7 linked regions of the Homo sapiens genome follow. Changing the gene in region 6 together with the main gene of any one other region gives a genetic interaction. Each region holds a gene or a part of one and is shown on either strand. Other genes may lie near its edges.

Evidence for each region.
Region 1: changes in LEO1 (region 6) and SLC7A6OS together harm fitness more than expected from each alone (negative genetic interaction), as found in Homo sapiens cells (one large-scale study listed by BioGRID).
Region 2: changes in LEO1 (region 6) and FAM50A together harm fitness more than expected from each alone (negative genetic interaction), as found in Homo sapiens cells (one large-scale study listed by BioGRID).
Region 3: changes in LEO1 (region 6) and NUP54 together harm fitness more than expected from each alone (negative genetic interaction), as found in Homo sapiens cells (one large-scale study listed by BioGRID).
Region 4: changes in LEO1 (region 6) and UBA2 together harm fitness less than expected from each alone (positive genetic interaction), as found in Homo sapiens cells (one large-scale study listed by BioGRID).
Region 5: changes in LEO1 (region 6) and PPP2R2A together harm fitness more than expected from each alone (negative genetic interaction), as found in Homo sapiens cells (one large-scale study listed by BioGRID).
Region 7: changes in LEO1 (region 6) and SSBP1 together harm fitness less than expected from each alone (positive genetic interaction), as found in Homo sapiens cells (one large-scale study listed by BioGRID).

Annotation. Positions count from the first base shown.
Region 1 is NC_000016.10:68,300,947-68,304,446, reverse strand, and holds part of SLC7A6OS (probable RNA polymerase II nuclear localization protein SLC7A6OS), read left to right. Parts: intron 1-214; coding exon 215-421; intron 422-1,937; coding exon of another isoform or gene 1,938-1,945; coding exon 1,946-2,066; exon of another isoform or gene 2,067-2,070; intron 2,071-2,627; exon of another isoform or gene 2,628-3,041; coding exon 3,042-3,172; 3' UTR 3,173-3,500. UniProt on the Homo sapiens protein: Directs RNA polymerase II nuclear import.
Region 2 is NC_000023.11:154,447,141-154,451,154, reverse strand, and holds the end of FAM50A (protein FAM50A), read right to left. Parts: intron 2,672-4,014; coding exon 2,595-2,671; intron 2,466-2,594; coding exon 2,399-2,465; intron 2,263-2,398; coding exon 2,201-2,262; intron 1,935-2,200; coding exon 1,858-1,934; intron 1,475-1,857; coding exon 1,420-1,474; intron 1,273-1,419; coding exon 1,224-1,272; intron 1,127-1,223; coding exon 1,056-1,126; intron 947-1,055; coding exon 836-946; exon of another isoform or gene 769-835; intron 732-768; coding exon 723-731; 3' UTR 501-722; downstream 1-500. UniProt on the Homo sapiens protein: Probably involved in the regulation of pre-mRNA splicing.
Region 3 is NC_000004.12:76,124,398-76,127,897, reverse strand, and holds part of NUP54 (nucleoporin p54), read left to right. Parts: intron 1-3,141; coding exon 3,142-3,249; intron 3,250-3,500. UniProt on the Homo sapiens protein: Component of the nuclear pore complex, a complex required for the trafficking across the nuclear membrane.
Region 4 is NC_000019.10:34,434,881-34,438,380, reverse strand, and holds part of UBA2 (SUMO-activating enzyme subunit 2), read right to left. Parts: coding exon 3,413-3,500; intron 1-3,412. UniProt on the Homo sapiens protein: The heterodimer acts as an E1 ligase for SUMO1, SUMO2, SUMO3, and probably SUMO4. It mediates ATP-dependent activation of SUMO proteins followed by formation of a thioester bond between a SUMO protein and a conserved active site cysteine residue on UBA2/SAE2.
Region 5 is NC_000008.11:26,368,008-26,371,507, forward strand, and holds part of PPP2R2A (serine/threonine-protein phosphatase 2A 55 kDa regulatory subunit B alpha isoform), read left to right. Parts: intron 1-2,126; coding exon 2,127-2,406; 3' UTR 2,407-3,500. UniProt on the Homo sapiens protein: Substrate-recognition subunit of protein phosphatase 2A (PP2A) that plays a key role in cell cycle by controlling mitosis entry and exit. Involved in chromosome clustering during late mitosis by mediating dephosphorylation of MKI67.
Region 6 is NC_000015.10:51,954,779-51,958,278, reverse strand, and holds part of LEO1 (RNA polymerase-associated protein LEO1), read left to right. Parts: intron 1-3,500. UniProt on the Homo sapiens protein: Component of the PAF1 complex (PAF1C) which has multiple functions during transcription by RNA polymerase II and is implicated in regulation of development and maintenance of embryonic stem cell pluripotency.
Region 7 is NC_000007.14:141,744,858-141,748,357, forward strand, and holds part of SSBP1 (single-stranded DNA-binding protein, mitochondrial precursor), read left to right. Parts: intron 1-638; coding exon 639-727; coding exon of another isoform or gene 728-804; exon of another isoform or gene 805-2,480; intron 2,481-3,500.

The sequences.
Region 1 (3,500 bases), on a different chromosome or scaffold from region 6:
TGGGAGGCTGAGGTAGGAGAAACGCTTGAACCTGGGAGGCGGAGGTTGCAGTGAGCCAAGACCACGCCACTGCACTCCAGCCTGGGCGACAGAGTGAGACTCCGTCTCAAAAAAAACTGTAGGGAGCCTTCCTTCACCCAACTCATAGGTTCCTCCTCTTGGAACATCATGTTTTGGGTCATGCGTGTGTGTGTAATCTGTGGTTTCTTTACAGACATCTGACCCAGATGTGATCCTCTGCAATTCTGTAGAGTTGATCCGTGAGCGATTGACTGTGTCTGAGGATGGACCAGGAGTCAGGCGCCAGGAAGAACAAAAACACGATGACTATGTGTATGACATTTACTACTTGGAGACGGCCACTCCAGGCTGGATTGAGAACATCCTCTCCGTGCAGCCCTACAGCCAAGAATGGGAGCTGGTAAGGGGGCCCATGAGCAGACGGGGCATGAGGCATCCTAAGCTCTTAATCTAATCAGAATGCTTTGCTTCCCTGGGCTCCACTCCCGAACAACATTGTCCTTAGTTCTTTTCCTCCTGAAAAGGAAGAAATTATTCTAAGTGCCTTTTAGGAACCTGACTTTATAGTACAGGGAATTTGGGGAAAGATCATCTTAGATTGATCATTTTTACATTAATGAATATTTTACAAGGTTTGCAACATCACCTTTATTGTTTATAGCTATCCATTCTTAGGGGGGAAATATGTATATGGGGCTTATGATAAGATAAAGACGATAAAATCAGAAATTCTTAACATGAGTGACAACAAAATCTATTTTTTAATTCGTACCTTAGAAGTAGAGAAACCTCGGATGAAGAAAGCTAACGTCCTGACATTATTCTTTTTTTTTTTTCTTTTTTGAGACAAGGTCTCACACTGTCACCCAGGCTGGAGTGCAGTGGTGCTATCTGAGCTCACTGCAGCCTCTATCTCCCAGGCTCAAGCAATCCTCCTATCTCAGCCTCCCAAGCAGCCAGCCAGGAGTACAGGCATGCACCATGATGCCCAATTTTTGTTGATTTTTTTGTAGAGGCAGGGTCTCACTATGTTGTCCAGGCTGGTCTTATGGTCTTGAACTCCTGGGCTCAAGTGATCCACCTTGGCCTCCCAAAGTGTTGGGATTACAGGTGTGAGCCACCACACCTAGCTGACACCATTATCTTTTTTTTTTTTTTTTTTGAGATGGAGTCTCGCTCTGTCACCCAGGCTGGAGTGCAATGGTGCAATCTTGGCTCATTGCAACCTCCGCCTCCTGGGTTCAAGCGATTCTCCTGCCTCAGCCTCCCAAGTAGCTGGGACTACAGGTGCATGCCACCATGCCTGGCTAATTTTTGTATTTTTAGTAGAGACAAGGTTTTACCATGTTGCCCAGGCTGGTCTCAAACTTCTGACCTCAAGTGATCCACCCACCTCGGCCTCCCAAAGTGCTGGGATTACAGGCGTGAGCCACCGCGCCCAGCCTATTCTCAAATTCTAAAATGCTTAACAAGAAAACTTAAGGTGGCACCTAATGGTCATGCTCAGACTATAATCAAGAAGCACTGCATCCTGCACCTGCATTAGGACAGATTTGCAGTCAGGTACCCACCTTGGACCACTGCATGGCCCTTCCTCCTGCCTTTCCGCACCTCTTACGCTTGGGTTTTGGTTTTGACCTTTGGAATTTGAAGGAATCGCTCAGAGCCATCACTCCTCTTTTCCCTGTGTTCCCTTCTCATGGGGTCCAGCATGTCCTATCATTGTGGAGCTGGGCTCTGAGTGGAAGGGGGCTATTATCTCCCTCTCATAGCCTCTTGTGCAATGGAGTCAAACTACTAGTCTGCAGTTTTTTCACAGGGCACTTTTACATGATATCTCTTCAAGCTGGTATGCTAACAACTTCCCCCAGAGCATAACCTTAGAGGTTTTGACTTGGACTCATGTTTGTGTTGAGATGTGTAGGTGAATGATGATCAAGAACCAGAGGACATTTACGACGATGAAGATGACGAGAACAGTGAGAATAACTGGCGCAATGAGTACCCAGAGGAGGAGAGCAGTGATGGAGATGAGGATTCCAGAGGTGGGTGGCAGCCCCAGACCGGGAGGGACTGGTAGGATCTGAGACTGAGGTGCAGGCATAGTTGACAGGTGCATCTTAATTGCCTTTCCTTCTCTGTCATTGAGCGCCAGCAGCCCAGCCGCAACTGAGCCATGCTGTAGGAGACCCAAAGACCAGTGTTTCCCAGGGGCCTCCTGGGGGTGTAATAATCCATCAGGCCTGGATTCAAATCTGTAGTTGTCATTACTTTGCTGTGGCTCTTGGGCAGTTACTTCACCTCACTGAGCCTCATTTTCTCTCCAAATGAGATGGTTCTGCATGAATTTTAGTGGTTGAGATTATGTAAAATATGTAGCTCATTGTCTCTTCCCCTGCCCCAGTCAAGAAACCAATGAAGAGAGAGGTTTGCCAGTAGGAATAAGCCCAGAGTTTTCACAAATCAGTTATCTAACTTCTCAAAAAACTGCTGCATGTACAACTGTTTTGAGAAAGATGCAACACAGACATAATACCTGGGGGAAGAAGAAAGATGCTCTGACAACATAATTCCCGTAGTAACTATATTAAAGAAGAGAGAAGAAGGCCCAACAAAAAGAATTTATTGGTGTCTGATAACAGAGAAATGAATCAAACAATTGCATATTCTTTTGGGGAGGTTTGTCAATAACACGTTAAAAGGAGAAAGGTACAAAAATATTTACAATATGACTACAACTCTTACAACAACAAAAAATCCTATACGGAGGGGAGAAGTGACAAAATACTCCACGGAGGGGAGAAGTGACAAAATACTCCAGTGTGAAGGAACTTGGTTTAGATGATAGGAAAGTGATTCCTTCTTTAAAAAAAAAAGAATTCTATATTCTTTTTTATTTATTGAGCAAGGATTTTGCATTACAATCGGGAACAAAAACAGACCTTTCTGAGAAGAGAAGGGGCTCCTGCAGTAGCCTAGGAAAATCACATTTAGAATCCACTCCCGGGATGTCATTCTAGGCTCTGCTGACTACAACAGCCTGAGTGAGGAGGAAAGAGGCAGCAGCAGACAGCGGATGTGGAGCAAGTACCCTCTGGATGTGCAGAAGGAGTTCGGCTATGACAGCCCCCACGACCTGGATTCAGACTGATGGTCTTGTGATGTCCATGAGGTTCTGCCACATGCCCTTGAGGGCTCTGAGTCCAGAGTTAACTGCCCTGCTGACATCCTGTTAGGTTTCCTAGCTTAACATGTGGAAGGAAAAGCATATCAAGCATATCGGGCGGCACCATCCCACCACAGTGAAAACTTATGTTAGGGGAGTGAGTCTTTTCCACTTACAGTAGGACCCCTTTGCCTCAATCAAAAGTGACCCTACAGTTTGAAAGAAAAAAAAACGTTGAAAAAAGGAAGGTTTCTTTAGCTTTAGCTTCTTGGCCCAGGAATTTTTCCTGGCATTCAGGTTCTGTGCTGAAACC
Region 2 (4,014 bases), on a different chromosome or scaffold from region 6:
AGCACAGGGCACCACAGCAGAACGACTGTGCTGGGACGGCCCACAGCAAGGAAGGCAGGATGGGTTTTCGTGGCCACAGGACGGCCACGTCCCCTACGGGAAACTCAACAGGAGCCCAAGGGCCTGGGAGAGAGGCCTGGGGAGGAACCCCCTTCCCACCCACCAGAGCCACCACCGCCCAAGGACAGGTGCCCACGGTCAAGAAGCACAGTGCCACAAAGACACCTCAGGGATGGTGGGGCTGCCACGGTGACAGACTCCCCAGGCACGTATGACACGTCCAGAACAGGTCAATCCATGGAGACAGAAAGCACATGAGAGCCTGGTGGGGGGATGTGAGGGGAGGAGCCTGCCTATGGCCACAGGGCCTTTGGAGGGATGAGAATGTCCTGGAAGCAGACCAGGGTGATGACTACACAACATGGCAAATGTGCTAAATGCCACCAAATTGTACAGTTTTAAATGGTCAAAATGACAAATGAATTTGGTCCGAACACAAATGGTTTCTCACAATGCAGGCGCTCCAGCTCTGACACGTGCACTTCTTTATTGGAAAAGAATAAAGCAGTCACTGATGTGGCAGGGGCAGGACACGAGCAGCTGCCGTCCTCCTCCCAGCGTGCCTGGCATGGTCGCAGGGGAGCGGGTGCCTGGAGTCCCGGTGACACCACGGGGCACACTGAGGGAGCTGAGGAGCCGGGGCCGCGCAGCCTCCTGGATGCTCAGCGGATCTAGTGTGAGGACAAGGTGGGCAGAGGAGACAAGGAAGGCGAGGGGTGAGCAGGGGCTGGCTGCCGTCCCCAACTTGGAGGGGTCCCTGCCAGCCCCTCCTCACCGTGTACTTGTCCCACTTCTTTTCAGGGTCGTAGGGTTCCCAGCGGCTGGCGGGAAAGATGTGCTTGTTCTTCTCGTACCAGCTCCTCAGCACCACCTTGCCTGCATGGGACTAAGGGAGGAAGAGGGCACAGGGCCGCCTGCTGACCTCCCCTTCCCTTGGCTTCTCCTCCATAGCCCAGGGACACCCGTTCCCCCTCACACGGCCCCCTACGCTGTACCTCATCCTTCTCCACAGTGGCGTCACTGAGCAACCGCACATCGTCATGAACATCAAAGTTGAAGAGTGGTCCTGCAGGGGAGAAGTGACAGCCCAATGTCCCGCTGCTGCCCCAGTGACAACATCGGCGGCAAGGTGCTATGGGGGCGGCTGGGTCGGCGGCACTCACCACTCTTCCCCCGTGCCTTGGTGACGATGAAGTCGTAGAAGCTGTGATGCTGGGAGCCAAGGGCAGGAAAGCGGCGTCTTGATGGTCCATCTCGGCCCCTCCCCACACCCCCCGCCTGCGCACACTGCCCCCACCAGCCTGAGCCAAAGCCCAGGGTGCTGCACCCACTGCGGGTACTGGGGCTGAAGGGACTCACGTGAGGGATGATCAAGTCCTCCTTGATGTACATGAGCTGCTCCACCCCTGCGGACCTGAGGGAGGAAGGCAGGAGGGCGTGGGCAAGAGGACAGCACCCCTGCCCAGGGAGGGAGGAGACAGCCAGCCCAGGAGAGCCCATGCTGGGGCTGGGAAGCAGCGGCCAGTTGGCTGTGAGGGAAGCTCCATGGTTTAGTGAGCACAGGACTGGCGCCCAGCACCCTCCACCTTTGGGCTAAGGAACCAAGGCAGGCCGCTCTCAGCAAAGCTCTCTGGTGGGAGGGAAGGGAAGAGGAGCCTGACCCCCTCTTTTGGGAGGAGAGTGCCCAGCACGCTGCTTGCTTGCCCAGACAGCGCCCACATCACACTGGGTGTCTGGCACCCAGGCTGGAGCCACAGGTGCCACACACACCACCGTGCACACACGCACACCTCACACCTCAGCTCACTGAAGTCTTTCCGAAGGATCTCGAGCGCCTTCTGCAGGAACTGCTGCATGGTGTTGCCCTTTCTCATCTGTATCCGGGAATCCAGGAGTTGGGAAGGGAAGGCGGAAGCCTGCAGAAGGGCTCTCAACAAGGCAGAGGCCCAGAGGGCCCTGCCAGACGCTGCAGAGCCTCAGCCAGGCCTGGGCCTCACTCCCCAGACAGGGGGCCAGGCCCTGGAGCCAGTTATCCTCAGGATCCCTGGGGCTTCCCAAGTCAGGAAGGTCAGTTCCTTCCCACGGAACCTGAGGGAGGCTGGGCCCATGGTGAGCAGGAAGCAGGCTGCACGCTGCCTACCTTGACTGTCCGCCGGTGCCCAGAGCCATCCCAGTAGCTGAAGGTGATCTCGATCTCCTCACCTACAAGGCAGAGCTGCCTCTTGGTCTCCAGCCCCACTGAGAGCAGCCTTGGGGCTCAGCGCACCACCCAGGAGACTGTGGACAGGGAAGCTGGCTTGGGCCCAGGCCCCTCGCGTCTGACTCCGCAAACACTCACTCTTGATCTTCTCCTGCTTGGCTTCCCACTCCTGCCGCAGCTCTTCCCGAAGCCGATTCTCCTCCTCCTGGGAGAGGGAGCAGGCAGACAGGTGAGGCCCAGGGCTGCTCAGGGTGCACGCAGAGCCTGGCTCCCTAAGCAAGGGTCTCCACCAGGGCTGGAGTCGAGGCCGGGGTCAGGGCCAGGCAGCCTTTACCTCACGGTCTCGATCAGGCAAGAAGCTTGTGTCAACGTCTGGGTTCTTCCCCAGTTTTCTCTTCTTCGTGGTGATCTCTGGAACAAAAGGAAGCCGAATATCATAGCATTATTATAAAAATGATTTTGATATGGCCGACGCCCAGGGTCCCCCAAGCATACCTTGAGAACAGTCGATCTAGAAGACAAGCCTAGGGCGGGCACAGAGGCTCACGCTTGTCAACCCAACACTTGGGGAGGATGAGGCAGAAGGATCACTTGAGCCCAGGAGGTGGAGACCAGCATGGGCAACATAGCAAGACCTCGTCTCTACTAAAACTCAAAAAAATCAGCCGGGTGTGGTGGCGCACCTGTAGTACCAGCTACTCAGAAGGCTGAGGTGGGAGGATCGCTTGAGCCTGCGAGGTCGGGGCTGCAGTGAGCCGTGATCAAACCACTGCACTCTAGCCTGGGCAACAGAGTGAGACCTCATCTCAAAAAAAAAAAAAAGAAAGAAAAAAAAGAAAAGAACAACAAAAAAAGACAAATCTAAACTCTTTAGCCTGATGCTCAAGGGCAGAGATTCTAGAGCCTGGGGTCTTGTGGCTGGGCCCCCTAAACGGAACCTGTGGAGGGAGGGAAGAGCCCACCAAGCAGTGTTTTGTAAAAGCCCCAGTGACACACAGTGAGGGTGACAACCTTTCCCCCAGGCCTGCACTGTCCACGCCAGTAGCTCCCAAGTTCGAGACCAGCTTGGGCAACATGGCGAGATTCCGTCTCTACAAAAAATACAAAAATACAAAGCGCCTGTAGTCCCAGCTACTCAAGTGGCTGAGGTGGGAGGGTCCCTTGAGTCCAGGAGGTCAAGGCTGAAGTAAGCTGTGATCGCCCCTCTGCACTCCAGCCTGGGCCACAGGGAGACACTGTCTCAAAAACAACAACAACCAAAACAAAAACACAAACACAAACCAGTAGCTCCCGCTGCACACAGCACCCCAGCATTGCAGCTAGTGCGCCTGCCGCAATGGTGATATTTTGGATACGCTGGGTTAAATACAATGTCATACTAAAATCCTGCTTGTTTCTTTTTCTATGTTTTACTGTGGCTGCTGGAACATGGAACCCAAATGGCAGGTGGCTGGCAGGTTCTTCCTCCCTACAATCCTGCACTCCCCTCAAAGCCATGGCACCCAGCCTGTTACCACAGCCACACAGCACCATCCCCTGCCTCGCTTCTCTCCCTCTGCCATTCCCTGGGTGACACAATTTCCAGAACTGCCACCACACCCTCCAGGGGCCCGTGACACAACTTGCTCCCAATCTTCAAACGTTTTGAAAAGCTCTTTCCTGCTGGGCTTCTGGCATGTACTTTCTCGTCGCCCCTCCTGCCTCTCTGGCGAATGCAACTCCCCTCATCCTTAGGGCCTAACTCAACCCTCCCC
Region 3 (3,500 bases), on a different chromosome or scaffold from region 6:
GGAGAGATTGGGGTTGTATATGCTTAGTCCATCTTGTCCAGAACTGAAATCATTCATATCTTTGGCCAGTGTTTCCACTGGGCTTCCTATTTTTTCTTTATTGAACTTCAGTAATCATTTACTCTAGATTGTAGTCTCTGTTTATAACGTTGTAAATATCTTCTAGTTTCTCATCTCTTTGTTAATTCTGTCTTTGGTGTCTGTAGTTGAAGAGAAATCCTTAATTTTAATGTAATGATATCCATTAAATGTTTGCCTTGTATTTTCTTTTTGGGAATTTGCTTAAATAATTTTTCACCCCAAAGTCTGAGAGTATCCTACATTAAAAAAAATTTAGAGTTTAACCTTTCACGTTTGAGTCTTTTGTTGTCATCATGAAGTTTACCTTTATATAAAGTATGTGGTATGAACTCAGATTTATTTTTCTCTAAATAGTGGGTCCATTTTTTTTTTTTTTTTTTTTTTGAGATGGGGGTCTCGTTCTGTCGCCCAGGCTGGAGTGCAGTGGCGCAATCTCGGCTCACTGCAAGCTCCGCCTCCTGGGTTCACGCCATTGTTCTGCCTCAGCCTCCCAAGTAGCTAGGACTACAGGCGCCCACCACCACGCCTGGCTAATTTTTTGTATTTTTAGTAGAAATGGGGTTTCACCGTGTTAGCCAGGATGGTCTCGATCTCCTGACCTCGTGATCCACCCGTCTTGGCCTCCCAAAGTGCTGGGATTACAGGCGTGAGCCACTGCGCCCAGCCCTATATTTTTAATATTGCCTATAAAAATATGATATTCCTCAATGATTATCAAAGAATTTAAATTACACTGTTTGCATATATATATGTGATCTATTTCTAGACCCTCTCTTATGTTTCATTGGCCAGTTGGTCTGTTCTTATACCCACCCATTCCACATTTTTTTAGTCTTATGGCTTTGTAGTGTATCTTAATATCTAGTAGCATGAATCTCTAATCTTGGTTCTTCTTTTCAAAGTTTTCTGGGTCTTTATGGGTCTTTATTCTTCCATAAAAACTTTAGAATCAATTTGTCAGAATGCTAGAATTATGGTTGGAATTGCATTAAATGCAAAGACTAATTTGTGGGAATTGAATTTTAATATTAAATCATTTCATCCATGAATGTGGTATGTCTCTTTAATCCTTGCAGTCTTTTATGTCCTTTAAAATAATTTTAAAATATTCCCTTTTAAAATCTCATGCGTTCTTTCTTGGATCAATTCCTAGATGGCTTTCTTGGATCAATTCCTAGATGGTTTTAGTATTTGTTAATAAATACTGTGGCTGATAACATGTCTAATTTTTTTAGTTATTACTGGTAGAAAATAATGTTGTAAGTACTCTTGTATCTAAAAACCCTGGTGATTTTTCAAAATTGGGATGGGGAGATTGCCTAGGTTTTGTAATATAAAACATGGCCACCTAATTTTGTCCTTTCAGCATGGCCTGGCATTGGAAAGTTTCTGTAAAAGGTGATGTGTGCAGGTGGATGTGCTAAAATATGTCTTGCACAATCTTAACCTCTTTCTTGTAACATGTAAATGTAAGCCAGTGGCATAGAATGATTAATTATGATAGAGACAATTATGGGATTAATTCTGATTGGGATGCTTTAATAAAATAGTGAGATTTTAACCTACCCTGTAAGGTTAAGACTTCCTAAGGCAGAATAGTGGGATTTCAGTCAGGTAAAACAGCAAGTCAAAGATCCAGAGGCATAAAAATGTATCCTGCTGCATAATTAATATCATTCCTTTTCCTCTGCACTCTGATTACTCCCTCCAAGTATTCTGTAACAGTTAATGTTGAAATGTACTGTACTTGCTGTCAGTAGTTAGATACAGGGCTAATTGTCTATTAAGACACCCCCTAGATATCATCTTACACATCTTAACTTTTTCCACTCAGACCTGGTTGTTGGCTGTATTCCATGTTACTTCAGATTCCTTAATTATTTCTGAAGTATGTGTTTTCTTTTTTTCCTTTTGAGATAGGTCTCTCCCTCTCTCTCTGTCTCTCTCTCTCCCTCCCCCTCCCCCTCTCTCCCTCTCTCCCTCTCTCCCCCTTTCTCCCTCTTCTCCCTCTCTCTCCCTCTCCCTCTCTCCCCCTCTCTCCCTCTCTCCCCCTCTCCCCCTCTCCCCCTCTCTCCCTCTTCTCCCTCTCTCTCCCCCTCTCTCCCTCTTCTCCCTCTTCTCCCTCTCTCCCTCTCCCTCTCTCCCTCTCTCCCCCTCTCTCCCTCTCCCCCTCTCCCCCTCTCCCCCTCTCCCTCTCCCTCTTGCCCATGCTGGAGTGCAGTGGCATGATCACGGCTCACTGCAACCTCAAACTCCTGGGCTCAAGTGATCCTCCCACCTCAGCCTCCTAAGGAGCTGGGATTACAGGCATGTAGCACTACACCTGGTTAATTTTTTATATTTTTTGTAGAGACAAGGTCTTGCCATTTTGCCCAAGCTTGTCTCAAAATCCTGGTCTCAAGCACTCCTCTTGCCTTGGCCTCCCAAAGTGCTAGGATTACAGGAGTGACCCACTGTGCCCAGCCGTGTGTGTGTGTGTGTGTGTGTGTGTGTGTGTGTGATGGAGTCTCACTCTGTTTTTTGTTTTTTGTTTCTGTGAGATGGAGTTTCACTCTGTTGCCCAGGCTGGAGTGCAGTGGCACGATCTCGGCTCCATCCCCCAGGTTTAAGTGATTCTCCTGCATCAGCCTTCCAAGTAGCTGGGATTACAGGTGCATGCCACCACACCCAGCTACTTCTTTGTATTTTTAGTAGAGACGGGGTTTCACTATGTTGGCCAGGCTGGTCTTGAACTCCTGACCTTAAGTAATTTGCCTGCCTCGTCCTCCCAAAGTGGTGGGATTACAGGTGTGAGCCACCACGCCCAGCTTATTTTTTCTATGTATTGCCTCATTGCTAAATTTCCTAGAGCTCTAAAGATATCTTTGCATGATTCTTTTAAAAAAATTTTAGGTATGTAAAAAGGGAAGAAATATAAAGCACAGATTTATAGGGAAAGAGTTTATATTTTGAGAGATGAATCTCAGGCTTATCCCAAGATTAGAATTTCCATACAGGTGTAACTGATAAATAGTTGTGATATTTGATTAACCCTCCCCCCCCCAATTTTTTTTTAAACAGATCATATCTGAAGATATTAGTGAGCTACAAAAGAATCAAACTACATCTGTAGCCAAAATTGCACAATACAAGAGGAAACTCATGGATCTTTCCCATAGAACTTTACAGGTAGTAATTTGGATTTTCCCCCCCAGTGTTTATAAGACTATGTGTGTGAAATAATGTACTAAATATAGATTTTTAAAATAGAAAAAAAAATACTAAAATGAAAGAATAATGTGAAATTACAAGTACCGAATTCTTTCAGTAAAACTTTGAAATTGGAAAACAAGTCTCATAGGTTTGAGTGAGGAGAATAAAAATATCCTAAAGTTCGTATTTTAGTGACAGTTTGAGGGAAAGCAGTGAAGAAATAAAGC
Region 4 (3,500 bases), on a different chromosome or scaffold from region 6:
ACACCTGAGTGTCAAATATGAGTTTACCTTGATCACACTAAACAGAAAAACTACTGGAAAGACAAACAGCAGCTTTCCAAGAAATTATTTCTCAAAGTTGTAAATGTTATCTAAATATTATTCGCAGCCATTTTCTTATATGTGTTTTTTTTTTTTTTTTGAGCAAAACTAAGTGGGTCTGGGGAATACAGCCATATCCTTATAATCTCCTGAAATTAAGTAAACTACAAGATTAATTTCAAGATATATCTCCCTACACAGAAAAATCTTAGGTGTTACTAAACCAAATACTCTTCATTTTATTGATATACGTTTCTTTTTGGCGGTGGGGAGACGGAGTCTTGCTCTGTCACCCTGGCTGGAGTACAGTGGCATAATCTTGGCTGCAATCTCCGCCTCCCAGGTTCAAGCAATTCTCCTGCCTCAGGCTCCCAAAGAGCTGGGATTACAGGCATCTCCCACCACTCCCAGCTAATTTTCATATTTTTAGTAGAGACGGGGTTTTTCCATGTTGGCCAGCTTGGTCTTGAACTCCTGACTTCATGTGATTCGCCCGCCTTGGCTTCCCAAAAGTGCTGGGATTACAGGCGTGAGCCACTGCGCCCAGCCCATTTTATTGATACACATTCAAGTTTAAAATTACAATTTAAGGAATTTATGCCTTGGAAGAAGTACATGACACCTGAGACAACTTTTCAAAACTATCAAATGAATCATCTTTCATTATCTCAGATATTCCTAACCTCAGTCTCTTCTTTTTTTCTTTTTGTCTGAGACGGAATTTCGCTCGTTGCCCAGGTTGGAGTGCAATGGCGTGATCTAGGCTCACCACAACCTCTGCCTCCCGGGTTCAAGTGATTCTTTTGCCTCAGCCTCCCAAGTAGCTGGGATTACAGGTGCGTGCCACCACACCCAGCTAAATTTTGTATTTTTAGTAGAGATGGGGTTTCACCATGTTGGCCAGGCTGGTCTCGAACTCCTTACCTCAGGTGATCCGCCCGCCTTGGCCTCCCAAAGTGCTGGGATTACAGGCGTAAGCCACCATGCCCAGCCACCTTCAGTCTTAATACACAGTGGTGTGTCAGAATCACAGTAACAAGGATATAAAAAGCAATGTCTGGCCGGGCGTGGTGGCTCATACCTGTAATCCCAGCACTTTGGGAGGCCAAGGCAGGCGGATCACCTGAGGTCAGGAGTTTGAGACCAGCCTGGCTAACATGGCAAAACCTCATCTCTACCAAAAATGCAAAAATTAGCCAGGCTAATTGTTCAAGAATCAAAACTCTCAAATACTGTTTTAATATAAATTGCAGCAGATTTAGAGTTTTCTCTGAAACACCATTTCTGATGCCCTCAGCCTTCCAATATGCTTTCTTGAGGGTAGCCACATGGCAAGCAGTCATGAGACTCATACTGCAATGCAGACAGAGAACTTCCGTCTTGATCTGTCAACAGATACTGAAGGCCTCCACTTATTCAACAACTTAATACGCACTGACATACACAACAGTCTTTTGTAGAATGGTATTCAATAAGGTTCCAAGAATAACATTTAACAGTTAAAAGAAACAAAGACACAATTTCTAACATGAATAAGCTGCCAAAAAAAATTAGACGCAACCAGCAAATGTTAAGTACATTATAATTCTCTTTCTATAGTTTCAAAACATGGAAAACGACTCTTCAAATGTAACTACAATATTTAACTTCTTAAAAGAACTGAAAGAAAAAATATCTGAATAGCAAATGAAGCCGTGTTGAGGTTTTAAAAACTGAGATATGTGCCAGGCATGGCGGCTCACACCTATAATCCCAGCACTTTGGGAGGCCGAGGCAGGTGGATCACCTGAGGTCAGGAGTTGAAGACCAGCCTGACCAACATAGAGAAACCCCGTCTCTACTAAAAATACAAAATTAGCCAGGCGTGGTGGCGCACGCCTGTAATCCCAGCTACTCGGGAGACTGAGGCAGGAGAATCGCTTGAACCAGGGAGACGGAGGTTGCGGCGAGCTGAGATCGCGCCACTGCACTGCAGCCTGGGCAACAAGAGCGAAATTCTGTCTCAAAAAAATAAACAAATAAATAAATAAACCAAAACAAAACTGAGGTATGAGCACACAGGTATTTTGTTCTATTATTCTCTAGTTGTATTTAAATGTTTGAAGTACTTCACAAATACACCCCTAAAAAGTTTTCAAAGTTCCCTTCCACATTATAAGCCCAGACTCTTAGACAACAGAATTTTTTGGTTTTTTTTTTTTTGAGACAGAGTTTCGCTCGTTGCCCAGGCTGGAGTGCAATGGCGTGATCTCAGCTCACCGCAACCTCCGCTTCCCCGGTTCAAGGGATTCTCCTGCCTCAGCCTCCCAAGTAGCTGGGATTACAGGTGCACACCACCACGCCCGCTGATTTTTGTATTTTTAGTAGAGACAGGGTTTCACCATGTTGGACAGGCTGGTCTCAAAATCCTGACCTCAGGTGATCCGCTCGCTTCGGGTTCCCAAAAAGTGCTGGGATTACAGGCATGAGCCATCACGCCTGGCTTTTTTTTTTTGAGATGGAGTCTCACTCTGTTGCCCAGGCTGGAGTGTGGTGCCATCTTGGCTCACTGTAACCTCCACCTCCGAGGTTCAAGCAATTCTCATGCTTCAGTCTCCCAACTAGCTGGGATTACAGGTACACGCCTCCACACCCAGCTAATTTTTGTATTTTTTGTAGAGACGTGGTTTCACTACATTGGAGAGGCTGGTCTCGAACTCCTGACCTCAAGTCATCTGCCTACCTCAGCCTCCCAAAGTGCTGGGATTACAGGCATGAGCCACTGCACGCAGCCGACACAAAGAAATTTTTGATGCCTGGTATATCATGCTTACCACTCTAAGGATTTTAATACAAAAGTCAAATGAAACAAAATGGCAGAGCTGAAAGATTTCCTTGCCCATAGTCTTTTGAGCACGTTTATAGCATTTTAAGTTTGTTTTTTGAGACAGAGGCTTGATCTGTAGCCCAGGCTGGAGGGCAGTGGTGCAATCTCAGCTTACTGCAACCTCTGCCTCTCAGGTTCAAGTGATTCGCCTGGCTCAGCCTCCCAAGTAGCTGGGATTACAGGCGCCGGCCACCATGTCCAGCTAATTTTTGTATTTTTAGTAGAGATGGGGTTTCACCATGCTTGCCAGGCTGGTCTCAAACTCCTGACCTCAGGTGATCCGCCCACCTCGGCCTCCCGAAGTGCTGGGATTACAGGTATGAGCCACTGCACCTGGCCCCGCATTTTAAGTTTTATATAAGCATAAAAGTCCTTACATTTTGGATGTTCACCTGTTCATTTTATATAAATACAAAGTTTATTTCCTCCTGCTCCAAGGTCTCAAATAAATATTTGGGAAGTTAAAAAAATAAAACTTTTCTTTACCTTTTTGATAGTAGTTACTTGTCCAAGATACCCAGCTGTTCCACTTTCAATAAGAGGAACATCAGCTGCCAGGCACATTCTATTAACA
Region 5 (3,500 bases), on a different chromosome or scaffold from region 6:
AGATTCAGGCTATACATTTTTGGCAGGAATACCACAGAAATGCTGGCCTAATGATACCTTTTTAAAGTTTCAAGTAGCCACAGCCTAGGTGTCCTAATACATTAAAACCACGCAAACTCAGATGATATGGGGATGTCAATCTAAATTACACAAGCCATTTTTAAAGAAATACAGTTTTGTCATCTTCAGGGGCACGCATTACCTTGAGTTTGATTAAAGTTGTTGCCAAGTGTCCTTTGGGAATTGACATTACTAAATAGATAATAATTTGTACTCAGTAGGTGACCTTTGTATGTAAGTATTACTTTGAACAATTCCCCAGTATCCTGTAATCCTTATTTACAATAATAATTTGAACCATTGGTAAGCAGCGGTAGCAGACCCTTTCCAAATTAAGAGCTTCAAACTTACGAAGTTTTGTTTGTGAGGATACTTAATAAATGTCGAGCAGTAATGGGTGGCAAATAGAACTGACAAGGAAGTGTCTTGGGCAGTTTAAAAATTTTGCCACCCCTTTAAACTGATACTTTTATAAATATTTGCTTAAAATGTTCTAAGTGGTAAAAGTAAAATGATGTTCTGTTAAGAAAATATTACAGCCTGGGCAACATAGCAAGACCCTGTCTCTACAAAATATTTAAAAATTATCTGGACATGGCAGCATATGCCTGTAGTCACAGCTACTCAGGAGACTGAAGTGCAAGGACTGCTTGAACCCAGGAGGTTGAGGTTGTGGTTGCAGTGAGCTGTGATTGTGCCACCACATTTCAACCCGGGTGACAGAGTGAAACCCTGTCTTGAAAAATACATATATATAGGCCGGGCACGGTGGCTCACGCCTGTAATCCCAGCACTTTGGGAGGCCAAGGCCGGCGGATCATGAGGTCAGGAGATTGAGACCATCCTGGCTAACGTGGTGAAACCCTGTCTCTACTGAAAATACAAAAAAAACTAGCCGGGCGTGGTGGCGGACGCCTGTAGTCCCAGCTACTCAGGAGGCTGAGGCAGAAGAATGGCATGAACCCAGGAGGCAGAGCTTGCAGTGAGCCGAGATCGCACCACTGCACTCCAGCCTGGGCAACAGAGCGAGACTCCGTCTCAAAAAAAAAAAAATTATACACACACACACACACACATTATGTACCACTTAATATTCTCAGGAGCAGATTATAACATAAGCATTTATTAAATGTGATTATCTGAACCAGACAATACCCTGAGAAGATTATTTATTTATGAGACAGAGTCTCACTCTGTCACCCAGGCTGGAGTGCAGTGGCACAATCTTGGCTCAGTGCAACCTCCGCCTCCCGGGTTCAAGGGATTCTCCTGCCTCAGCCTCCTGAGTAGCTGGGACTACAGGCACGTGCCACTACACCCAGCTAATTTTTTTTTTTTTCCGAGACGGAGTCTTGCTCAGTTGCCCAGGCTGGAGTGCAGTGGCACGACCTTGGCTCACTGCAAGCTCCACCTCCCGGGTTCACACCATTCTCCTGCCTCAGCCTCCCGAGTAGTTGGGACTACGGGTGCCTGCCACCACGCCAGGCTAATTTTTTTTGTATTTTTAGTAGAGACCGGGTTTCACCATGTTAGCCAGAATGGTCTCGATCTCCTGACGTCGTGATCTGCCCACCTTGGCCTCCCAAAGTGCTGGGATTACAGGCGTGAGCCACTGCGCCCGGCCCAAAAAATGTAAATCATAAGATAAAGCATTGGTTTCTTGTGAACAGCTACAGCTACTTCATGCGGGGTTCTTTTGTTTTAGAACCTGTGAGTTCCACAGATAGTTGCTCCTTTGAGAAGCTGGCTGGCCTGGTTGATCACATAGCCTGTAGTTGCAAAAATACTTAACAACGATAATTCTGCACTCCTAAGAAGTTTTACTTGAGGATGCTGTCAACTTTGCTGATAGTTTTGGTAGCCATAAAAAGAATAAGCAGAAAACCCAGTTAATTAGTACCGTATTTCTGGTTTATTCTAGTGATTGAGTTGATGTCAACAGCCCCTGTCCCTTAGTTTAAATCTGCTTTTGAAGTAGCTTCCTATGGTTTAATTGCCGAATCATTTTACTTGAAAACAATTTCTTGTTCTGCTTGTTTGACTGAGTGTACTGTCTATTTTCACAGTGTTGTCATGACTGGATCTTACAATAATTTCTTCAGAATGTTTGACAGAAACACAAAGCGAGACATAACCCTAGAAGCATCGCGGGAAAACAATAAGCCTCGCACAGTTCTGAAGCCTCGCAAAGTCTGTGCAAGTGGCAAGCGAAAGAAAGATGAAATAAGTGTTGACAGCCTAGACTTCAATAAGAAAATCCTTCACACAGCCTGGCACCCCAAGGAAAATATCATTGCCGTAGCTACTACAAACAATCTGTATATATTTCAAGACAAAGTGAATTAGGGTTGGCATTCCTAGCAGAAGAACCCACTTCCTGCTTAGTTGAGATAGTTGAATCTAGCATTCGTTCCTATAAAAGAGAGAGGTCCATTGTGGCGCCCCTTTCCAGTGTTTGACAGTGTGCCATTCGACAACACATTGTTATAGCTACATGGAGAAAGCTCTGTGGATTCATCACTGTGGTGTTCTCCATGTCTGCTAGCCATTTAGGTAAGGGTAGGGCACTTTTAATTTAAATGACTTCTTGCACCATCTTGCCTAATGGACTAGATTGGACTGTATCAACATTGATTTACTCCACTTTTTATGCCTTCCATTGTGATGACGTCAAACACAGTGAAAGCCTTCAGTCATGCTATGGGATTTAATTGTGTATCCTCATTACTGTATCATTTGTGGGGTACACCCCTTCCCCCTTTTTTTAAATTAAATACAGCTCATTCTTACTGTGGCTTGTAGCATTCCTCCTCTTCTGGCCTCCTGGACTGCTCCCCTTCATCTCTTACCCTTGCCCCCTCCACCCGGTCTTGGTGGTGGTATATTAAAAAAAGAAAGAATGAAAGCACACAAAATGAGTCAGTTTGGGGTCAGTGGTATAAAGGGGGTATATGTTGCAAACAAATGTTTTAGTAACAGTTGGCTGTAATCACTCCTCGCCGTGTCTGGCACTGAAAATAAGGAAAAAAAACCTACTACTGAATAAAAGTGACAAAGAATGGAGAATCTGGTTTTCTTTTTCTTTTTAACCTACCTCTTGTAGCCAATATTTTGTGTCATACCTTTGGGCACAGTGAAACAAAATGGGTTTTCATTGTTTATTGGTATTTTTGTTAATTATTTTTAACAAGTGTTCTTTTACATGCAGGAGGAGAGGTATTGGTTCTCTATGAACATATTTTGAATATAGGTTTTATTAAGGATTTCACAATCTATAAATGCTACTAGTTTTTTTTTTTTTTTTTACCATCATGAGGGTATTGGATACATTGTGTCTCTATTTAACTCATTATGTGTTAATGAAATTGTTGTAAATGGGAACCAAATTTGTAGAACTTAATTTCTACTTTTTAGAGTGCTTAATTTCATTTTTGCCTTAC
Region 6 (3,500 bases):
TTGCTGTGTTGCCCAGGTTGATCTTGAACTTCTGAGCTCAAGTGATCCTCCCGCCTTGACCTCCCAAATTGCTGGGATTACAGGCATGATTGCTACTGCACTTGGCCAAGTAGACATTTTAGAATTGAGTTGCACAAGGGAACAAGAGGTGGTTGAATGCATGATACTGAAACTGGAATTATGCATTTTCAATTCTTAAATCCGAAGGATTTCCTGTAAATTTCTTATTTTCTAGTGGGTATTTATATATTTTTTTTTGAGAAGGAGCATCGCTGTGTCGCCCACGCTGGAGGGCAGTGGCATGATCTCAGCTCACTGCAACCTCTGCCTCCTGGGTTCAAGTGATTCTCCTGCCTCAGCCTCCCAAGTAGCTGAGACTACAGGCATGCACCACCATGCCCAGCTAATTTTTGTATTTTTAGTAGAGACAGGGTTTCACGATGTTGGCCAGGTTGGTCTCGAACTCCTGACCTCAGGTGATCCACCCACCTCGGCCTCCCAAAGAGCTGGGATTACAGGTGTGAGCCACCGCGCCTGGCCTTGGTACCTTATTAAATTGTTAGAAAGGGATAGTCTGGCATTTTTTAGGCACTGAATTTTTATATTTTTAATAGTACCATCTCTTCAATGTGGTATATTAACAACTACCTAAATAACCTTGATATAAGATGGTTTCTATCCAAAAGCTTTTCAGTGAGACTTCACTACTCCTCTTAATGGAAATGCAAATCAAATAAGAAAACTGAGATAAACAGGTGCTAATAATTTGTTCAAGATCACACAGTCAACAGATATACTGCTTACACTATTTTTTTTTCCTGTCCTCCCTCCACCACCCATCTACTCATCTGTTTATTAGCCCATCTGTTAATATTATTTCTTTGGGACACATGGATGTATTGATTTAGGCTTAGCAGTATCAATTTTTCATGGTTGTTTTAGTGCCTCTGGCTTTAATTCTACTACTTTTCATTGTTTCCTGTCATATACATATAAACTAATATAGTAGTTCCTTATTCACTTTTTATCAATTTATTTAATTTTGTCTTTTTCCTTTTTCTTACTTTCTGTCATGATGCTACAGCTAGTATCAATATATCTATTATATTTTTAGACCATGTGATACCAGATTCTAGTATGGGTGTCAGACTTCAAAGGCCGGGCATGGTGCCGCATATCTGTAATTCCAGTACCTTGGGAGGCCGAGGTGAGAAGACTGGCCAGGAGTTTCAGACCAGCCTGAGCAACAGAGCAAGACCTTGTCTCTACTAAAAATAAAAAAAAATTAGCCAGCAGAGATGGCGCATGCCCATAGTCACAGCTACTCCAGGAGGCTGAGGCGGGAGGATTGCTTGAGCCCAGGAGTTTGAGGCTGCAGTGAGCTGTGATTGTGCCATTGCACTCCAGCCTGTGCAGCACAGCGAGACCCTGTCTCCCCCCCAAAAAAAAATTTATAAATATGTATTTTACCCTAAAATTTCAGTGCATCAGACTACAAAATGTTGGTGTTTAACATAAACTGTTGTCTTAAAACCTTGGTGTGTGATAGGAAATAACCCTGGACCCTTATTTTCTTGAGTGATGTTTAAGACTACGCTGACCAGTCTTAAAGCATGGTGTAGTTAATTCTTTAAGAACAAGGAACCAGGGAACCAGGTACAGCTTATGTACCTCTCTGAGGTCCCCTGTCTTCAGAAATACTATTATGTGTCCTTCATCCTGATAGGTTAAGACCTAGCAATGTGTCCTATTATAGCATCATTACTATTTGAATCACTTTATATAATAGAAAGCATTTTTTAGAACGGCTTCTCAATTAATAATGGCCTATTTGTGGTTTTTTTTTTTTTTTTTTTGAGATGGAGTCTTGCTCTGTCGTCGCCCAGGCTGGAATGCAGTGGCGCAATCTCAGCTCACTGCAACCCCCGCCTCCCGGGTTCAAGCAATTCTCCAGCCTCAGCCTCCCGAGTAGCTGGAATTACAGGCACATGCCACCATGCCCGGGTAATTTTTGTATATTTTTAGCAGAGATGGGGTTTCACTGTGTTGGCCAGGTAGGTCTTGAACTCCTGACCTCAGGTGATCTGCCTGCCTCGGCCTCCCAAAGTGCTGGGATTACAGGTGTGAGCCCTGCACCCGGCATATTTGTGTATTTATATGTGGCCAACCTATTGTATGAGATGGAAGACAGGAATAGTGACAGATTGTTTTGTTTTCAATCTGAAAATTTCAAACATACACCAATGTATTAAAAACAATATAATGAACTCTTTCATGTGCCCATGACCCACTTCAACAGTTGTCGAGTTAACAATCTTTTGTCATCTACATATTCCCCACCCCAGCTTCCCCAGACTATTCTGAAACAAATTTCAGGTATGACATCATGTTTAATTCATAAATATGATGGAGTTATTCAATCAGCACACTTTATAGCTATTTGTGAGGAATAAATAGGGAAAGGGGAAAAACTGGAAGGGGGAATCATTAGGACCCAGCTGCACAGACATTTGCAGCTAAAGGAGTGGAGATCCAGACGATCTCCGTGGGACTGGGAGCAGCTGTGTTTAGGATTGACACTGGGGGAACAGGCAGAGGGAAGCATGGTCTTGGCATTGGCAGTTTTCACATTGTTGGCTTCTGTCTGTTGCCAGCTTCATTCTCATTCTTTCTATCCTTGTATGTCCTGTTTTTACTCTTCATTGTCATTTTAGTGGGTTTCCAGGAGGCAGCAGTGATAAACTGCATGCGTTTAGTATGCCATGTTTTCCTGGAGATCCCACTGACTTTACTTTCAGTAACAGTGGTTTTCATTTGCCAACTCTGGTGTTTCCCCACCATGCAGGTAAGATAGTTAGGCTCTAAACCTATTGAAATCTGGGGTTTTCATTTTCATAGGGCACTTATTTATCCTTATTCATATATGGGAAGTTTATCTCTCTGTGCCAATAGGCAGAGTTTTTGGTCTCATTTTTATGGAGTTTTTAGCTCTGTGAGAGAACTTGCTTTATACAGGGGTTTCACTTCAAAATTTCTTCCTCGGCCGGGCGTGGTGGCTCACGCCTGTAATCCCAGCACTTTGGGAGGCCCAGGCGGGCGGATTATGAGGTCAGGAGATCGAGACCATCCTGGCTAACACGGTGAAACCCTGTCTCTACTAAAAAATATGAAAAAATTAGCCGGGCTTGGAGGTGGGCGCCTGTAATCCCAGCTACTGAGAAGGCGGAGGCAGGAGAATGGCGTGAACCCGGGAGGCGGAGCTTGCAGTGAGCCAAGACTGCGCCACTGCACTCCAGCCTGGACGACAGAGCAAGACTCCGTCTCAAAAAAAAAAAAAAAAAAAAATTTCTGCCTCACATGGACTCAAGTTTTATCGCCTGACCCTTGTAATTCTTACTGTCTTAACACATCTCGGGGTTAGTGTACATTTAGTATCTGCCATCTGCTCAAATGCTCTAAGCTTTCTCTATGATTATGATTCTAGGAGCTCAGAAATTCAC
Region 7 (3,500 bases), on a different chromosome or scaffold from region 6:
ACTTTTTTGGTGGTGGTAGACTCTCAAAACTGGTACTATTGTCATCTTTCCACTCTTGAAAATCACGATTAGGTTTGTTATCTAGTTTAGCCTCTAGATAGTGTAGAAATAGTCTTAGTAATTACCTCTAAGTGGTATACTAAGCTGATACAGTGTAGAAATAGTCTTAGTAATTAACTCAGGGTAATATTATACTAAACTAACTACAAATCCATATTTTGAATTTTAATCATCTAAGTTTCTAAGGTCATAGAAAATAATTGATAAATAAGTGAAAATCAAGTCTGTTAGGGACTCCAAAATCAAAGGTCAAGGAAAATGATACATTGGAAATTATTCCTAGAGATTTAAATGTTGCCACTAAATTTCCCTTTGAACTGTTTTGTTTTATTTTTTAACTTCCGTAAGAGAAATAGCTGACAGATGAAAACATTGTCTGTTTTACCTAGATGTTACCAAGTCTGTTTGGACACTCTGTTTCAGTACTCCTAATCCTGAACCTTGAGAAGTGGTAGCAAAAATTAGCTTATATATGATTATATATTTCATCCTTGTCATATACTCAGTACCACCCTGACCTGACTCTTATAAAGCATATTAAGATCTCAACTAAAAACTGTACATTTTATTTATATCAGGTCTCGAATTTATTTGGAAGGGAAAATAGACTATGGTGAATACATGGATAAAAATAATGTGAGGCGACAAGCAACAACAATCATAGCTGGTAAGAAGCTTGTGAAAATAGCTGTTTTTTTCTTTTTCTCCTTTTCTTTTTTAAAAGCTTGGCTACACTGTAACTAACTAGGGTTAAGAGTACCAGTACTTATGAGTTAAGGCAACTCACTAGAAGATGTCCATAACTCTTATTTCTCTACTTGCTAAGAGTTTGTACATTTATCCCTTCCTTTAAAAAATTATTTTTATACTTACAGTTTTAGTCACAAGTAACTTTTGAATAAAGCCTAAAACTGAATTATCCATCCCAGTACTTATTGTTGAGAATTACAAAAACTCTGAATGTATTGTCTTTTGGAAGGATCTAGCCCTAACCAGGAAGAAGCGTATGCCAAGATAAGAATTACACTAATGTGAGTGTGCAGATTTATTCGGAACCTCTTTGGTACTTAGTATGTGAAATTTCTATTTGAAATTAAGATTTTTTTAATTTTATTTTTTTTGAGCCAGAATCTCACTCTGTCACCCAGGCTGGAGTGCAATGGCACAATCTCGGCTCATTGCAACCTCTGTCTCCTGGATTCAAGTGATTCTCCTGCCTCAGCCTCCTGAGTAGCTAGGATTATAGGTGCGTGCCACACCACCTGGCTAATTTTTGTAATTTTCGTAGAGGCGGGGTTTCACCATGTTGGTCAGGCTGGTCTTGAACTCCTGACCTCAGGTGATCCATCCACCTCGGCCTCCCAAAGTTGTGAGATTACAGGCATGAGCCACTGTGCCCAGCCAAGAAGTTTTTAATTTTCTCTTTTTTTGTTTTTGTTTTGAGACAGGGTCTCCCTCTGTCAACCAGGCTGGAGTGCAATGGTGTGATCACAGCTTACTGCAGCCTCTACCTCCCCAGGCTCAGGTGATCTTCCCACCTCAGCCTTCTCCCAAGTAGCTGGGACAACAGGTGTACACCATCATGCCTGGCTAATTTGTCAATTTTTTTGTAGAGATGAGGTTTCACCATGTTGCCCAGGCTGGTCTCAAACTGCTGGGCTCAAATGATCCTCCCACCTTAGCCTCCCCAAATACTGGAATTACAGGCATGAGCCATTATGCCCGGCCTAATATTCTCTTTAAACAAAATACAGTACAACATAGAAAAGATGTACACGTAAAGGTTAAAGAAGATTAAGAAGATATCCCTTAGGAAAGAGTTTTTAAACTTTTGAAAATGCTATAAGAATTTTGAAAATAATATACCCCTCTGGATGTCTGCAAGCGACATTAAGAAATTTTTTTCAATACAAAATTGTGTTATTTTTAAATGTATCAATGGAATCTAAATAGCATAGCAATGTGATACCTACTATCCTGTAAAAAAATACCAGTTCAGCATTTGGAAATTTTCCATTATTCTTTTTTCTTTGAACTTGTTTTACTGTTTTTATTTTCCCCTCAGAAGTGTATCTTAATAGTATATGGTATAGTTAAGAACTTTTTATTACCCTGTTTGTAACAAAAATGCATGCATAAAAGAAACTTTAAAATATTTAAAAGAATTCTATGACAAATTCTTCTCAATTGACTTATCATTAAAGTTGTTTTTAGTACCTAATTGATCAAAACAATTTTAATGTATTTAAATTATATTGGAAATATGTCTTTAAATGAGATAGATGGTGCTTTTTTCACTTCTTGAGTAAATTGCTAAAATTAGACATTGTGAATTTTGTGCTTTTGTTTGCTTTTATGGACATAAATACTAAGAAAGCTTTTTAAAATAAATACATGGCAATAAACTAAATTTTACTATATTAATGTTTCTGTGTTTATGAACTTCTGAGATATGCCCAAATTAGATTTTTTTTTTTTTTTTTTTTTTTTGAGACAGCGTCTCACTCTGTTGCCCCGGCTAGAGTACAGTGACACGATCCTGGCTCACTGCAACCTTCGCCTCCCGGGTTCAAGCGATTCTCCTGCCTCAGCCTCCTGAGTAGCTGGGACTACAGGCACGCGCCACCACGCCCAGCTAATTTTTGTATTTGTAGTAGAGATGGGGTTTCACCATATTGGCCAGGCTGGTCTCGAACTCCTGACCTCGTGATCTGCCCACTTCAGCCTCCCAAAGTGCTGGGATTACAGGCGTGAGCCACCGTGCCCGGCTAGATAATATTTTTTAAAAATTGATTTTTGGGCTGGATGCAGTGGCTCACGCCTGTAATCCCAGGCCTTTGGGAGGCTGAGGTGGGTGGATCATTTGAAGTCAAGAGTTCAAGACCAGCCTGGGAACATGGTGAAACCCTGTCTCTACACAAAATGCAAAAAGTAGCCGGGTCTAGTAATGCGTGTCTGTAGTCCCAGCTACTCAGGAGGCTGAGTCATGAGAATTGCTTGAACCCAGGAGGCAGTGTTTGTAGCGAATTGAGATCACACCACTGCACTCCAGCCTGGGCAATAGAGGAAGACTCTCTCAAAAAAAAAAAAAAAAAAAAAATTTTTTTTTTTTTACTATGGAAAATGTCAAACATGTATAAGAGCAGAAAAAATGGTAAAATGAACTCCTACCATTTCGCTTCAGTGTCAGCTGATGGACAGTGTTATATCCATGCCTCCAGCGACTTGACCTACACCTGGATTATTTTGAAACAGATTCTAGACATAAGTTTATTCATAAATTTCCATAGGGATCTCTAAAAGATAAGGTGTCTTTTTGAAAATGTAACTACCGTGCTATTATCACACCTAATATTAATAAATTACTGTTAATTTTTTTACTAAATATCGTAGTGTTCAAATTTCCTTGATAACTTCATAAACATTCATACATTATATTA